2 separate regions of the Homo sapiens genome follow, and region 2 is linked to region 1. A link means that fine-mapping ties the variant in region 1 to the expression of a gene that starts in the linked region. Tissue or cell type: whole blood. Region 1 holds a variant in brackets; the other region holds the start of a gene. All regions are shown on one strand. Distances are between the middles of the regions.

What was found. PIP is the estimated chance that this variant, and not a neighbour inherited with it, causes the effect.
Region 2: it holds the start of FAM111B, and the variant in region 1 is fine-mapped to the expression of FAM111B in whole blood (TOPMed, PIP above 0.99).

Annotation. Positions count from the first base shown.
Region 1 is chr11:59,266,884-59,274,990 of GRCh38, reverse strand. No RefSeq gene overlaps it. Among named protein-coding and RNA genes, the nearest start is that of MPEG1, 58 kb to the right of the region's middle. RefSeq lists an enhancer at 1,792-1,841. The variant C/T (reference allele first, on the strand shown) is at 3,588.
Region 2 is chr11:59,102,697-59,110,803 of GRCh38, reverse strand. It overlaps FAM111B (FAM111 trypsin like peptidase B), which reads right to left and starts at 3,567. Exons shown (of 4, transcript NM_198947.4): 1 at 3,508-3,567; 2 at 2,092-2,136; 3 at 1,098-1,264. The coding sequence starts at 1,178. LOC105369315 (a long non-coding RNA gene) reads left to right here and starts at 4,079. Exons shown (of 3, transcript XR_007062680.1): 1 at 4,079-8,107. RefSeq lists enhancers at 2,399-2,448, 3,589-3,678, 7,784-8,107.

The sequences.
Region 1 (8,107 bases):
GATCGCTGTTGTAAAAGACCAAGGTGATCACATTTAGGTGGTTTTCTAAAGTGCTACCTGGTCCTATGGTCTGTTTTTGTAGCTTCCTCCTGATATCAGGTGTTGCCTGAATAATAACTTTATCATATAGGATTAGTTGTCTCTCTACTGAATCAGGTGATAGAGAGGTATGCTTCATCAAGTCCTCTCTTAGCCTTTCCAGAAAGCCAGAGGGATTCTCATCTAATCTCTGGTCAATCACAGTTTTGAGTAATTGAAAGGCTTAGCTCTAGTCCTTCCTAAGCCCTCCAATATGCACACCTGAAAGTGTTTCCTCCTCCATTCTCCCATGTTATCATCATGGTCCCATTTAGGGTCCTACAATGGTATCGCCGTCTTTCCAATTGAATAAGGTGCCTTGTCTTCTCTGGCACTATATGAGGTACAAAGCTCATTTCCAAATTTCTCTGCAACTTGCAGGGAGGCTGTTTCTCCACAGTGGTCAGGGTTTGCTTTAAGAGAAATATAATGTCCTTCCAGGAGAGTTCAAATACTTGGGTTAAATCCTGGAAGGCCTTTATATACCTGCCAGGGTTGCCTGAAAATCTACCAAGAGTTCCCTTTATTTGTCTTAAGTCTTGTAGAGAAAAGGGAACCTGTACCTTAATAGGGCCATATTCACAAGGCATTTCTTGTATGGGCATCAGGGAGGCTGGCACTCACCTAGAACAAAAATGTCTATGGTGGGGCAAGTTTAAGGGGGGACCTGGACAGGGTCGATAGGATTGACCCAGAGAACTGGCTTCAGGGGCTGGCGCCTTTTCTGTGGGCGTTCTAGGGTTTGTTTCCCTGGTCCACTAGGACTGTCCTTTGTGGGGTTTTTTGATATAACAATTAGGAGGGCTGGGTGAACTTTACAGTGTTAACAGAGGTCTGGGTTATCCTGGGTGAGCCCCTAAGAAATGTTGCAGTTTCCTTACTCTGTATTTTAGTAAGTTCCAAGTTCTTGTCTCGTGGCCACGAAGAAAGAGGTATGCGGATACAGGAGGGTGGGTAAGGGAGAGTCGAGTTTTATTAAGTGACAGAAAGACAGCTCTCAGTAAAGAGAGGGGACCTGAAAGTAGGTTGCTGCTGACCAGCTCATCCAAGGGTTTTTATCCCTCCTTTCTAGAGATGTTTTTCTCATTTGCATCTTACATAACCTCCTACTTCCAAGTTCCTTCCTAGTTCCACTTCTTACTGTGCAGGTGCCTTCTTGTCCACAGTTACTCCATTGTAATTATTACCCATAGGCACTACAGAAAAGCCCAGTTGGGGGTGGGGGTGGTGGTAAAACTGCAACGTAGATGTCATGTTCATGATATTATAATAAGCTGGGTCAAGTTAAGGACATTTAGTTGATTTATTGTGCTTGTGCCTAAGTTGAGACAGTCCATTCTGAGCAAACATCCTGGTATAAGAGGAAGTTCTTAACCACATCTCCACCTGCTAGCTACGTAACAGGGGAAGAATATACTTCCCTGTGGGTGTTGTTCTCTCCAGAGACTCTCCATCTCTACCTGCCTAGCCAGCCCCTAACTGCCTCCTCTCACAAAAGGTACAGTGACCGGCCCTAGGTCATGCAGAAATTTGGCTGGCAGAGGGGACAAGACCTGCATGAGGCCTAGGGACAGAACATTTTAAGGCCAAAGCCAATGCATAAAGCTGAGCCCTTACACCTGTGCTGGATGAAATCCCAACCCTACAATAAGAAGTTACTTCCTCTGACAACACCTGGGTTCACTGAAAAAAGAGGAGACAGAAAGCCTCCCGCAAACCCAGCTCAGGATGATGTGTCTTGCCTTGTAGTCAGCTTTGCCCTCCCTCAGTGGGAAAAGGGGCCAAGTTCAGTGCTGCCAGCAAACACAGGGCTGGCCTGGTGACCGCTGTTTACAGCTTGCACTGGGGCCCAGGGAAAATGGCAGGGAAGGGTCCCAACTGGGCCACTTTAAGAACACACAACCCCAAACACAAGGAAAGGGTGAAGGGACTTATTTGGGAATTTCCAGCTGGAGGAAATGGGTTTTCTTGGTTTCTGTTCTGGGGGGTCTGAGAACATGGAACTCCAGTTCATCGAGGTGTGGGGTGTATCGAGGAGGAACCAGCTTACAGGGGGCCAGCCGCAGTGCCTCAGTTCCCAAGAACAGGCCACACTCCTGGGCTCTTCCTCAGGCTTCTGGCACGGATGCCTCACAGCTGCACACTGGCACCTGAGAGACAATTACTCGGTTTTTCTGTAATGATGATTGCTATTCTGAAGATCATGTTCATGGATATACTGACAAGTTTTGACTTTTCTGTTTCTTTTAAGAAACTGTTCCGGGGAGTCCTGCATTAGAACAATGTGGGTGCCCTTGCTCTGGGTGGGAGGAAATTTTAGCATCTTGGTCCCAGCTGGCCAAGCTGAGGATGGACTTGGCCATGAACCCAACATGTGGTTCAGCCCCAGCGGGGATTTGCCAGGACAAACCAGGGGGGAAGGTTCAATCCGGCGTGGTAGAAAAGCAGCTGCCCACCTGGAGTTGTATATAGAAGTGGGCTTCCAGTCCCTTCAACTCTGTGAGCCTCTCTCCAATGTATGTGCCTGAGAAATAAACAAGTGAGGAGACTCATCTTGACTGTGTAAAGTGGGTGTCCCCCAAGCATACCTGTCACACCTGGAAGAGAAGAGAGGGACTTGTGACCTAAGTGGCTCAGAAACTTGCAGTGTAGGGTGCTGGATAGGATGGGGTTCTGGCAAGGAAGAGTAGACAGGAGCTGCTGGAGGGGAAAGGAACATTGACCAAGCACCTACTGGGCACCAGGCACATCCTGTGAGCTCCTGTAATCCTCATATCTAGTGGGTGTGTCTATGTGTGTGTTTGTGTGTGTGCACATGACATCCCAAGGTCAAGCCAGCATCTGTCCAACTCAACGCTCGTGTCCTATCTTCAGGCTGCTGCTCTCTACAGTTGATTGGTCTGGTCAGCTGACAGTAGAAGTTGTCCCCTGGGAGGTTGCACACACTATTTCTGCGATGTCCCATTGCTCCAAACACCTGGCATGGGCAAGAGGCTCCAGGGATGCTGGACTATGGGGTAAGACCCTCCCCAGATTTGAATTTTCCCTCAGCTGCTCATCAGGTCAGCGACCTCACAAATGACTCAGAGTCTCTGAGCCTCACTCTCCTTACCTGTGAAGGTTTATCTCCCTCCCCCAGGGTGTTCATGGAGATTGAACAGGGTAATGGCCTTCTGGGGAGTGATCACCCCAGGTCCTGATGCACTAGCTGATACCTCCATTCCCTTCCCTGAGTGGCAGCCACCTCGAGCCCACGATGACAGCTTGTGACTTTGCATTGATGCTTGTTTATTTATTATTCCAGGTTCAGCCAAAAATCCAGCCCCTCTCAAAGGACAAAGATCAACCTTCCAGAACAATTAGCAAACACTTCTCAGAGTCCTCCATGCTGTGCAGATGGTAAGCATCTCTGGGAGTCTCGCCAGCACTGTGAGTAAGGCAGCCTTTTTACCCATTTCACAGAAGGAGAAACTAAGGCTTAGTAAGGTCAAGTAACTAATTCTGCCTCC[C/T]ACACTTCACTCCCTAGAGTTTTATGTGTGCATCTGTTAAAGTTCTCCTTTTATCGCCAGCAGTGTTTATGTATAATTAAAATAGCTCACATCTGTTGATTAACAGTCACATTACAACCTGCATTAACTCTTCCACTTAATGCCTGTTAAAGGATTAGCAAACCATTTTACAGATGAGGAAGGCAGGGCACAGAGAATTAATGTCCACACCATGCTTATCAGTGAGTGGAGCAGGGATTCAAACCTAGACCTTCTGGGTCTAGAGCCCTCCTCAGCCATCACCTCTCATTCTCCATTAGAGTTGGTTATCATGTGAGTTGAGGCCCAAAGGTTAATGGAAGTTATTATTCTTCTTCACCACCAATTGAACTTTTTATCTTTACCTACTGTCCTCTTCATCCTTTTAATGCTTTGTACCCTAAAATCCGCTTAGATATTAACTTTGCCAGTTCTTTCTTTTTGGTTACATGTGCCAGGTATACTTTGTCAAACTTTTAATTTTGGGTGTTTTGCTTTGTTTTTTGTTGGTGAGACAAGATCTCACTCTGTCGCCCAGGCTGGAGTGCAGTGGTGCAATCTGGGCTCACTGCAACCCCCGCCTCCTGGGCATAAGCAATCTTCCTGCCTTGGCCTCCCAAGTAGCTGAGACCACAGGCACGAGCCACCACACCCAGCTAACTACTTGTAATTTTTTTGATAGAGACAGGTCTTGCCATGTCACTCAGACTGATCTCAAAACTCCTGGGCTCAGGCGACCCACCCACCTTGGCCTCCCAAAGTGCTGGGATTATAGGTGTGAGCCACTGCACCTGACCCAATTTGTAATTTTGAACCTCTTCTTACTATCCTGTTTCAGTTTTTTTTTTGTAAACAACTATAGCTGGATTTTGTTTTCTAACCCAGTCTAAAGCAGTCTCAGATTTTGTTAGAACAACTGAAGGATCTGACATTTGTATGTCACTTTATTCTATGTGAATGGTTTATTTTACTCCTTTTTCCATAGTTTTGATGGTTTGGGCAAATTACTATTTATTCTCTTTCTAATTGTCAATCTATCATTACAGCAAATGGTTGCTTCCTGATCATTATATAGAAACAGGGTAAGCACCTGCCTCCCGCTAGGACTCTCTCTGCTTCCTTCCGCCCTACCCACCCCAGTAAGAGCTACCCAAGAAGGCTCCTATCCCTGCCACCTTCCACTGATATTTTCCTATAAACTGTGAGACTCAACTAACAAGGATTCCCTCTCCTTCCAACTTGGGGTCCCTATTCTGATCAACTGCCATTTCATTAGGGCCTTTCTTGATGATTTCCTTCATACGTAACACAAGCGGGAATATCCTCTGAATTTCGCTTGCTCGTCTGCAAAATATATTTCTTAGTCTGGTCAGGGAATGGTATTAATGCTCTGGTGAGGCTTCCTGGGCCCAGGCCAGCCAGAGTCCTCCGGTTTTCAGTGCTGCAAATGAGGAATCTGCTGCCAATGTGTTTCTTTTCTTCCTCCTTTGTCAATTATCTATTTATTCTGCTGGGAAGCCTCTTTGATTTTATCTGTAGCTTTCAAGAATGTCACCAGGAGATGCCAAGGGTGTATCTTTTTCTTCAATGTAACCCTGCCTGGAACTCTAACAACCTTTTCAATGTGCAAACTCATGCCCTCTTCTGATCAGGGAAAATTTCTACTATTATTTATTGATCATATTTGCCATGTCCAGACCTGCTTCCTCTTCTCCTTCCACAGCCCCTAACATTCACAGGTAGATGAAAAGACATCCACCAAACCTATATTTTCTTTCGTGACTTCCACCTGTGTTTCTGGTTTTCTGGGAGGCCTTTGTTTCCCAGAAACAGGAAAACCATCCTCTTTTCCACTTGATGTTTTGAATTTTCTAAATTTGAAAATCCTAGTTCTAGAACCTGTTTTCTTGGGCAGTATCTGGATTTCCCTGGGTTTTTGAAACCTAACACTTGTCCAGTATGTGCCGCTTGGCTTTCCTTTTCCCTCCAGCTGGGGGTCCCTCAAGGCTACTCCATGTCCCCAGCAGCCAGGTCCAGCTGTGGGGTCCCCTTCCAGTGGGTGCACGGTTATGCCTCTGGCCCCTGACCTGCCCTGGGGCAGCAATAGCTTTCAGCAACCTCTGGGACAGAGGGCAAGGGAAGAATAGAGCAGAAAGACTCTAACCTCATCTAAGCCCACTCAGGACTCCAAGGACAGGAATCGATTCACACTTTCTCTTCTGACTTGTTTTTGTAGAGATAAGGTTTTGTCACGTTGCCCAGGCTGGGTCTTGAACTCCCAGACTCAAGTGATCCTCCAGCCTTGGCCTCCCAAAGTGCTAGGATTACAGGTGTGAGCCACTGCACCCAGCCAGGTGCCTTTGTAAGAGACCTTAGCCCCCTTGCCTCTTCTGCCATGTGAGGACACAGGGAATCAGAAAGTGGGTCCCTTACCAGACACAAAATCTGCTGGCACCTTGATCTTGGACTTTGTCTCCAGAATTGTGAGAATAAATTTCTGTTTATAAGCCACCCAGTTCATGTTTTTATTTTGTCACAACAGCCAGAATGGACTAAGACATCCTCCCTGGGGAAAGCCCCCACCTCAGCCCCACTGTTTCTCTGCCTTCATCACCCAGCACCCACTGGAATGTCAGCTCCACCAGGGCAGGGCCTTCTTTGTCCCATCCACTGGACAGGACCTGGCTGTGAGTATGGTGGGATCTGCGCATGGGCCTGCTGGCTGACAGCCTGCCCTTCTCCGTGCTGGTGAAAAAGAGGGTTTGTTTGTTATTTCCAGTTTTCTAAAACATATTTTTAGAATTACAAACATCAGAAACACAGTTCCTAGTAGGGCTGCAATGGACCAGAGTAAGATGGAGCCAGGGAGATAGGAGAACACAGCCTGGTTCTCCTCCGGGTGTAGCGTACAGAGCCAGGCCCTGCTGCACCAGCTTTGCCTCCTCCCAACCCAAGCAAGCAGGCAGCCTTGGAGCCCAGCCTCAGTGAGGGGACCCAGGCTCTGGTCTGTCTTGCTGTGTGGCCTTGGCCACAGGTTCCCCTCTCTAGACCTCTGAGGCTGGAGTCGACCGGTGGGTCCCTGTGGGCCTGACTCACTGCCTTGGAAAACAGCCAGGAAGGCAGATTTCCAGGCCCCACCCAAGACCTAAGGAATCAGCCCCAGGGAGCAGGTGAAGATGAAACCTGCATTTAAACTAGCCTGTTTAGTGGTTCTCAGGTGGCTGTGGGGACTGTGGGTTGAGACCGTCTCCAAGGATAGATTCAGGAAGATCCAACTCAAACAGTTTTGCTTTTAAGTCTCAGCTCAGACCCCTCCTGGCTGCATTGACCTATGAGCCTTCTTGCCTCAGGTTTGTCATCTGTGAACCGGGCTGGGGAGGATTCTAGGGGCCGGTCCATGCACATAGATGACCTCACACGAAGCCAGCAGGAAGCAGGGATAGTGCCTGCCCTTCTGTTATAGGGCAAGATGCTCTGGCTCTCCACCCATAGCTGTCCACACCTTTGCAGGAAGTGGATCATACATGTTAATTTACTTAATCAGCTGAAATCCTGAAGGCTTCCTAAGGGCATCCTTTTTTTTTTTGAAACAGAGTCTTGCTCTGTCACCCAGGCTGGAATGCAGTGGCGTGATCTCAGCTCACTGCAAGCTCTGCCTCCTGGGTTCACACCATTCTCCTGTCTCAGCCTCCCGAGTAGCTGGGACTACAGGCGCCTGCCACCACGCCCAGCTAATTTTTTTGTATTTTTTAGTAGAGACGGGGTTTCACCAGGTCATCTTTTCAACTGTCTGGATGGGTTGGGGGAAATCATGGCCCCACAGCGGGGCTCCTGGCCCCAGCTGGCAAAGGTTCCAAATAGCTGCTGAAGACCTAGGAACAGGTCAGGTGGCTTTATGGCCAGGGGCTGGGGCCTGAGCTGTCGGTTTGAGGTTTGGCACTGACAAGTCAAAGTTCTGCCCGACTGGTCTCTTTCTTGCTATGAATAAACACTTGCTGTCGTCTGGATTAATCTCCAGCCTCTCAGCCACTCAGTGGGAGTGAATCCTCCTTGCCAGGGGGTGCCCTCTGGGCCTCAGAGAGTGAAGGACCTGGGACCTCTTGTGGACAATGCATTCAATCCCACAGTTGCCACTATGGTGTGTGAGTTTCTTGCATTGCCATTAGTTGGGAGCATTTAGCTTCCCAGGGCTACCATTCGGGTGAGCTGTGGGCTCCTGGCAGGCTGGGTGCCATGCAGAATCCGCTTGGCCTTCGAGGGGGCCATGAAGACTGAGGAGGCTTGGCCTAGATTATGAGAGGACCAGAAACTCAATGGGGAGTGATCTAAATAGACACAGGGCGAGTGCTTCTTGGATAAAAATAGAGCTGATGGGGGCCTGGGGGTGGGGGCAGGGTGCTCCAGAGCCAGAAGGTCAAAGGGGTGGTGCCGGCCACCTGGTCAGGACATAGAGGGGCCAGCAGGAGGGGCTCAACCTGGCATTTATGGACACGGCGGGGGTT
Region 2 (8,107 bases), 160 kb after region 1:
TGTTCCCCAAATATGTTTTCCTGTGTACACGACTTTACTTAGGCCATTCCTTCATCCTTGATACACTAGTGAAATGTTATTCATTCTTTTTAAAAAATAACTTAGTTTTAGACATACAAAATGCATAATTAATGTACATAATTAATGTATGCAACTTGATGAGTATGGAGATACATTATCACCACAATCTATGCCATCAACCTATCTATCACCTCCCAAAGTCTCTTCCTGCCCTCTTATTATTTTTGTAATTAGAACACTTAACATAAGATCTATCATTTTAGCAAGAACTTGAGTATACAACAGTGTTATTAACTATAGGCACCCATGCTGTACAGATCCCTAGAACTTATTCACCTTGTATAAGGAAACTTTGTACCCCTTGACTAATACCTCCATTTTTCTCTATTCCCAGCCCAACAACCACTTCGACACCTATGAGTTTGACAATTTTAGATTTATTATTCATTAATAAATCATTTCTCATATGACGCTGCTGTAGTTTCCTAAGTCTGAATTAAGCATTCTTCTCTCTGTACTCTAAAATCACTTGTTTATGTCTCAATTTTGTATTATCATTTTGCATATTTTGAGCAAAATAGTGTGGGTCAAAAACCAGTCTCTGCAGTCTGATGGACTAGGTTTAAATCCTTGCTCTGAAGTCCATTACTTCTGCAACTATAAGCAAGTTGAGCTTCAGTTTCTTCTTTTATAAAATAAGTATGATAATAATACCTACTGCATAGTTCTATTAAGTGTTAAATGAGATAATACATATGATGGGACACAATTCTAGGCACACAGTGTTTCCTCAGAAAACATTAGCTAATTATTTTTGCCTGTCTACACTTTCCAAGACTTTAAGTGTCTATATTGTTTGTTAGTCATCTTGTTGTCTTAACATACGTTTAGCATTGTTAACTCTATCATTTTGCTTTCCACAAGCACTTATGTGTATGAGCTCCCCAAATATATTTTAAACTACCTAAGAGAAGGGCTTATAACGACCATTGTTTAAGAACTTATCTCCAAGATCCTCATATGGCACTATAGTTAGACTATCACTCCTCTGAGGAGTTGTAAAAAAGTAGATATACCTTTGAAACTTCAGGTCTAGTCCTCTGGTCATCTTCCATAGCGCTAAATGACTTGTTTTCTTCAGTCTTCATGGAATTCATGATGAGTTCAAAGAGAATGTAACTAACTTCTACTACTCGATAAGATGGAGAAACAAGGATTGAATTTATTCTGCCACCTGAAATGTCTAAAAAAACCAAAAAAACAAGATCTATGAAATAACCACTTTCAAACACTGGAGATCAGGTGGTGTGGGACCTCATCTCTGATATCTGAGAAGAAAATCATATGAGGTAAGCCCTATGGCTATTTAGCTTACTGTATGGAGTTTCCAAGGCATATCTTAGGAAGGAGAAACAGGCAGAGTCTAGTAGTTTCCCTGATTTGAGAAGACAAGCAAGGAGTTTTGGGAGGCCAAGATGACTGGAGCTTGTATGACAGAGTACTAGGGAGAAGACAGCCACAGGAGCACACAGTATGAGAGATCTGCAGTGGGTATCCCTTGAGATTTCAGCTTGGTCAATGCATGAGTGGAACGAAACTGTTGAAAAGGAACAGGAAAAGAAGTACCCAAAAGAAGCAGATGTAACAATTTCTGAGGCTCATACAGGACTGTGTATAATTTCAATTCCCAAAAATCCGACTAGAAAACTTCATAATTCATGAAGTATCAGGGAGACTACTCTGCAAGGTATTTCTTCCGCAGTAGGACAAAATTAGCCCTAGTTCTGCTCCCACCTAATAAATAAAAGCAAGCTTCGAAAGTATAAAATGGTTTCCATGTAAAATATGAACATACTAGAACAAAGCTCAAGAATATTGATAGGAATGTAAAAATTTCTGGCACCCAAAGTTGTGAAATTAACAAAGCTTGATATCTAATAAAAAAATCAGCAGGCACTTAAAAAGTGGATAAATATGACCCATAATGACTAGAAATATCAGTGAATAGAGACAGGTCCAGAAGTGAGAGAGAAGATAGAACTAGCAGTCAGAAACATTAAAAGTCATTACCTTGAATTTCTGGCCAAAATGGAGTAACAGGGACTGGATTTCCCCCTAGTATGAAAACAAAACAAAACAAAAAAGAGCAAAACATATGAAACAATGGTTTGCAAGGAACTGGACATTATGCAATTAAGGACAGTGACAATTGAAATGTATCCTATAATCCACTTTAGCAGACTACCTTGAGGAATTCCAGGCCAGTGTGGCAAGGAAGGGCAGCAAGACAAAACCAGTAGGAATTCCAGATTTAAGGAGACAAAGCTGAGAGACTAAGGTGACAAGAGGTCACAGGCCAAAGACATGGTGGGAGACCTGCACAGAGAGGGAACTCTGGATATATGAAGAGGGTTCCCCTAAAGCATTCAGCTGTGTACTGATCAGAGCAGCAGCTGAGAAAACTTTCCAAGGCCAGGAAAGAACCACCCTAAAACTGTCATAGTCTAACTTTCCACCAACCCTCTCCCTGTAACCCTTTTAGGGATCCCCATTTCCTCATTTCTAGATTAAGGACTTTGGCTCAGATGAAACTTTTATTGTTCGTGTGAATTGGTTCCTCTAAGCTTTTTAAAAAGGATTCCAGATCCCACCCTCACAGACTCTGATTCAGTATGTCGGGGTGTGGCTATGGAATCTGCATTTTTACCTGCCTCACTCCACAACCCCCGCCTCAAAGGCGCACCAAGTTCTTTGAACAGCTGCCTCTGTCACCGCAGGATGACCTCAATGCTTTCCTAAAGCCCCAGAACCTATGAAGGTAACCTGTGCTTGAAGCTGTGCTTGCTTACAGAAACAGAGACTGGATGTCAGTAACCACCGTGCTACAAGATGGGAAACGAACTTAGAAGCGCTACCCTAACCTGAATCCTTGCTGATTACCATACCTCAATCTGTGCCTCGGGGAGAAACGCAGCTTGCTAGGCACATGTAGTGTTGGGTGGCAACAGAAAATAGGAGACTGCCACACTCAGCTGTTTCTGGAAAGCCCCGTCTCTTTCCAGAAATCCTTGCTTTCCAACTACCTGCCCTAAAAGACCTTAAGAAGCACCCTCACACTACACTCCAGGCACTTTGAGCAGGAGCTCTCCTACTCCATTCCTTGATCAGTGAATAGTTTCTGCTCTGCTTAACCGAACCTGGTCTCCTTCTATGGGCGCGAACGGCACCGGGCAGGGAAAGGACCCACCAGGGTCAAACGACCCTCTCGAGATTCAGGAACACCCAGATGATCTCTAAGTATCTCTTCAGGAGTACAACTCTTGGCCTTTGAAGCTGAGACAGGGGGAAGGGAATTACAACGGGCGGCTGCCCAGCTCCCCATCCAAAACCCCCTTGACTTTGGGCTGAGGTCCTTCTGCCTACTGCCCTTGTCAGCCATCCCCCTAAGAACTCCAGGTCCGACCCGGGAAAAGAAAAACCACTCACAGAACCGGAGAGTCTGTCCACACGGTGCAAGTGCCCGTCAGTGCCCGCCGCTCTGGATTTGCAGGTGCTGGAAAGACTGCTCTTTTATATCTCTCAGCTGAACTTTTCCCGCCTAGAAGGGCTCGCCCGTGCGCGGCAGGAGCCTGGGAACTGACACTCTCGCTGGCCAATGGACGAAGAGTCTCTGGAGGCTGTTTTTCTCTCATTGGATGTAAATGACTCATCTCTCATCCACTGTGGAAGCCAATTATCATCACTCCAGACAGTGATTGAAGGGAAGGACCGGATGAGCGCGCAGCGCGCGCAGGTGGGTCTGAAGGCCGGGCCGAGGGTACTGCGCGCCAACCCGCCCACCCTCCCTATTTGTCTGGATGACCCTTCCCGGTCTCAGTGATCCCCTCCCCGGCACCACTCAGTCCACGGCCAGTTCCCGTGTCCCAGGATAAACTAAGCAATCACCGCCCTGCTCTTTCCCGCTCATGGGCGTCCCCTGTCTCCCAGTGGAGGCTAGGGAGGAGCTGCGCGGTAGCTGGGCGGAGTGGGAGGTGCCTGGAGGTTTCGCGCTTTCTCCGACTTTTGATTGCCAGCGCGCTGGCGGGAGCCGCGCGCTGGCGGCAGCTGCAGGGCGAATAGCCCGCCAAGTTGCTTAGGTGTGTGGCAGTTGCTGCCTTTCTGCAGCGGCGGGGTGGGCGACGGTGGCGGGATGAGCATCCAGGCGGGATCCTTTGGCGGCAGCAGCAGAGAGAGCTCCACCCGGATAATGCAGAGGCCCAGGCTCCAGCGGACTTCAAGTCCCAGAGCAGGCTGCACCCGCGTCTGCGTGAAATCTAAAGGGACTTGGCCTGATCACAAATGAGCTAACTTCGCGGCGGGGCTGGCGAACACAGACAATGCCAGCCTGGAGGAGGCAGTGGCCAGCACTGCTTAGGCCTCGTTCCCAGGACGCGCATTACTGAGTGCTGTACTTTACCCTTTGGATGAAGGCTCCAGAGTACGACCTCCCCAAACTGATATCAAAGAAGTGCTTTGCATGGGGCTTGAGAAAACATCTTACTGTTTAAGAAAAGAACGTCTTACTGTCTGAGAAGCTGAATAGAATGAGATGCCATCAGTATTGGGTGTTATTTTTCAGAAGTTGCTCAAAGAAGGAGAGAAGATGGTTAAGTGGGGATGGAGACAATTATTTTGTAACTCATAGAAGGACAGATGTTTATGTAACAGTTGATAGTTTTGGTGGAATAATCATGAGCATGTTTCTGAAATTAATATAAAATATACAGAGACCCCTAAAATCACTGCTTAAATTACACGGGTCTTGAGGTGTTCGGAAAGAGCAAACTTTGGAAGTATAATTGTAAAAATAATGTCATACAGACAAAGAGAAGAGAAAACTTAACGACAGCTTTCTTAAATCGCTGTTATTCTTGAATCATCTGAAAGCAGTACACGTGCCTGGCACCAATATACATCAGAGAGTAAATCATTGCACAAGGAGACTTGATCTTCTTTTTTTGTAGAATCTGGAGGAAACAAATCTATGAAAAGCAAGAGATGGTAGAGAATGGTGTTGTCGAAATTGCCTGACATCATTGGAGATAGAGAATTTGCCCTGGTAAAAGGTGCTCCTCAGGGAGGAGCATCTGCACATTCCATTAGCATAAAGCCCCTGGTGGGCCATATGAAGAAGTCTGGATTTTGCTATAAATGTGAAATTTATTTTAAATGGAGGATTTGAAGCAGGGGGGTAATATACCCTGACATATTTTAAAAAATCACCCTAGCAGCGTTTGTGCGGGGTAAAGACTCTGGGAGGACAAGAAGAGATGTGGAAGGGAGAAGGCAGCTAAGAGTCTGTCCCAGGATTGCAAAGATGTTGGAGCCCGACCTCAGATGGTAATGGTGGAAGTGTTAGAAATGGCTGGATTCCACATTTATTTTGAAGGGCCAGCCCTTGGAATTTGCTTATGGATGTTCCATAAATAAGAGAAACAGAGGGCTCAATGACGATTCCTGGGCTTTTGACTTGAGCAACTAGAAGGATGGGGAAGTCTGAGGACAGAGATGCTGTGTGTGTCAGGAGTGGGGTGTGTGTGTGTGTGTGTGTGTAAAATTCTACTTTTGACATGTCGAATTGGAGATGCTAATCCACTCCAACTGAAAAATAAGGAGGGAAGTGGACATTCAACACATGATGACAGGAAGACAGGGAAGCTGGGACTTATGATGGTAACAATGTTGGCCATTAACTGAGAATTTTTTTTTTTTTTGACACAGAGTCTTGCTCTATTGCTCAGGCTGGAGTGCAGTGGCATGATGTCGGTTCACTGCAACCTCCACCTCCTGTGTTCAAGCGATTCTCATACCTCAGCCTCCTGAGCAGCTGGGATTACAGGAGCCTGCCACCATGCCCAGCTAACTTTTGTTTTTCTAGTGGAGATGGGGTTTCATCATGTTGGCCAGGCTGGGGTCGAACTCCTGGCCTCAGGTGCTCTGCCTGCCTCAGCCTCCCAAAGTACTGGGATTACAGATGTAAGCCACCACGTCAGGCCTAAGAAATATAATTAAAGTACAGGGAAAATTAAAAGAAAGTTCACAGAGAGATATCACGGCAAATGATAAATACAAAAGCCTGCCTTGTTTCCCATACCCCCTGTGTCTTAGATTCCCTGAATTTTACCTCCCAGTGGACCGTGCTTGTCCCTTTGTAATGGCGCTCCAAGCAGCACTGCTGCACACCAATTCCTGAGCTTCCCTGCTTCTTGAGCTTAGGAATAGTTGTGCTTCTATTTCCTGTTTATTTGCTCATCACTGGAGTAGCAACTGAACCACACAATTGGGATAAGTACCCTGAGGCCATTTTGGGAGTAATCTTCCATTTCTTCCTTACGTATAAAACTGCCCCTCACAGAGAAACTGTCTAGAGTGATAGGTCCAGAGTAGAGCTCTAGCTTTGCTTTACCCTTTGCAGCTGTGCTCTGAGAGCTTTGATGCAATCCCACTGCAACTGGAATCAGTGACAGAGTAGGGATGCTCAGGGAATCTGTTGGGCCACCAAAGAAAACTCACTTCTAGCTAATGCTTATCTGGGGCTATGGAAGTTGTCTAACATCCCTGGGGACAGAGTGTTTGCCCTGAAAAGGAACATTCCCTTGGCACAAAGTATCCTGTTGGCTGGATTTTATTATAAATGTGACAAGAATGCTTTTGGCCAGTAACTGGTGGTTGGGTCAGTTTGTGTTTTGTAAACCCATAAAGAGGAAAAGGCTCTCATGTGGTTGGGAGAGGTGGGAATGGATCATGCACTAAGGTCAGGTCTGGTGAAGTTAGGGAATAAGGCCAGTGTTTACGAAGAGTGATTCCTTCATGAACCCCTAAAAGATGCTCTGGAACACTACCAGTAGGATGATGTCTGTATGTAGAGGTGCAGATGACATGTTCTCGGAATACAGAGGAAGGCACCACTGCCTCTACCTTGAGAGTATATCACAGAGAAAGATTTATATTTGGACTAGATGGCTGAGAGATGAGTAGGAGTTTGATAGAAGAGAGCATGGAAACTGGCTGTACAACGGCAGAAAGGGCAGGAAAGGCTGAGGAGAATTGGCCTCTGGGGGTGGGTTATAGATATGGGCCTGGGCACCACATTCTGGAGCTTGCAATGGGGTATGTAAAAGCTTAGATGGGATGGTCTTTTCCTCTCCTCCCATGGGTTCATAGTTGGCCCACCTCACTCACTGCTGCAAACAAGCTGCCCCCATTTGAGAGAGAGCTGGAGTGGGGTCTCTAAGCCTCCAGCAACCACTTAGGAGCTAGCCTTGATGCCCCAGCAGCTAACCTCATGGAGACCCCATAGTCCATCCTATCTTGGGAAGACAATGCAGGCATGGGGAAGGTAACATTCCCCTCCAGACTCCAGAGGCTCCAAGGAGCCTCTCTCTCTCTTCAAGAAAAGAAATAGTCACTGAGCCACGGGTGGAGGTGAACATGGTTTGGGACCAACAGGCGGCTGGATGGTTTCACCTCCACGGTCATACAATGGTACTGGGAGATGAATGGGGGTAGGGCGATCTAGAATTAGTTCAACCTCAACTTCCAGTGGGGTGGTGCTTGGAGTTGACTCATTGTGGCCCCATTTAATATTCGCAGTCACCAGTTGGGGTAGGTGGGACTGTTGCTCCCATTTCACAGATCAGGACAGGATAGTTTGCTAGAGGTCACAGGACTAGTTGGGGAAAGGAAAGGGTGTCAGGTAGGATTTTAACCTTAGAGCCTCACGTTTTCTTAGGCTCTTTCAGGGGGACCTTGGGCAAATTCCGTTCTCTCTTGGTGGGGGGGGGTCTCCATTCCTTATTTGTAAATTAAGGAGTTCTTCCAGTTTGTGATTCTCTGTACTTTAACTTGGATAGGTTTTGTAAAATGGGGATTATGGGAACCCCACTATATTTAAGTAGAGTAGGTCTGGGGTGAGGCCCAGTAATCTGCAGCTTTGAACAAACCTCGGCATCCACAAAACTGGCTGAGATACTCAGGGAAAGTTTATGATGCATGAAAATCTTATTGCGAGCTGTCCAAAACACATAACACTGAGCTCCATCTGCAG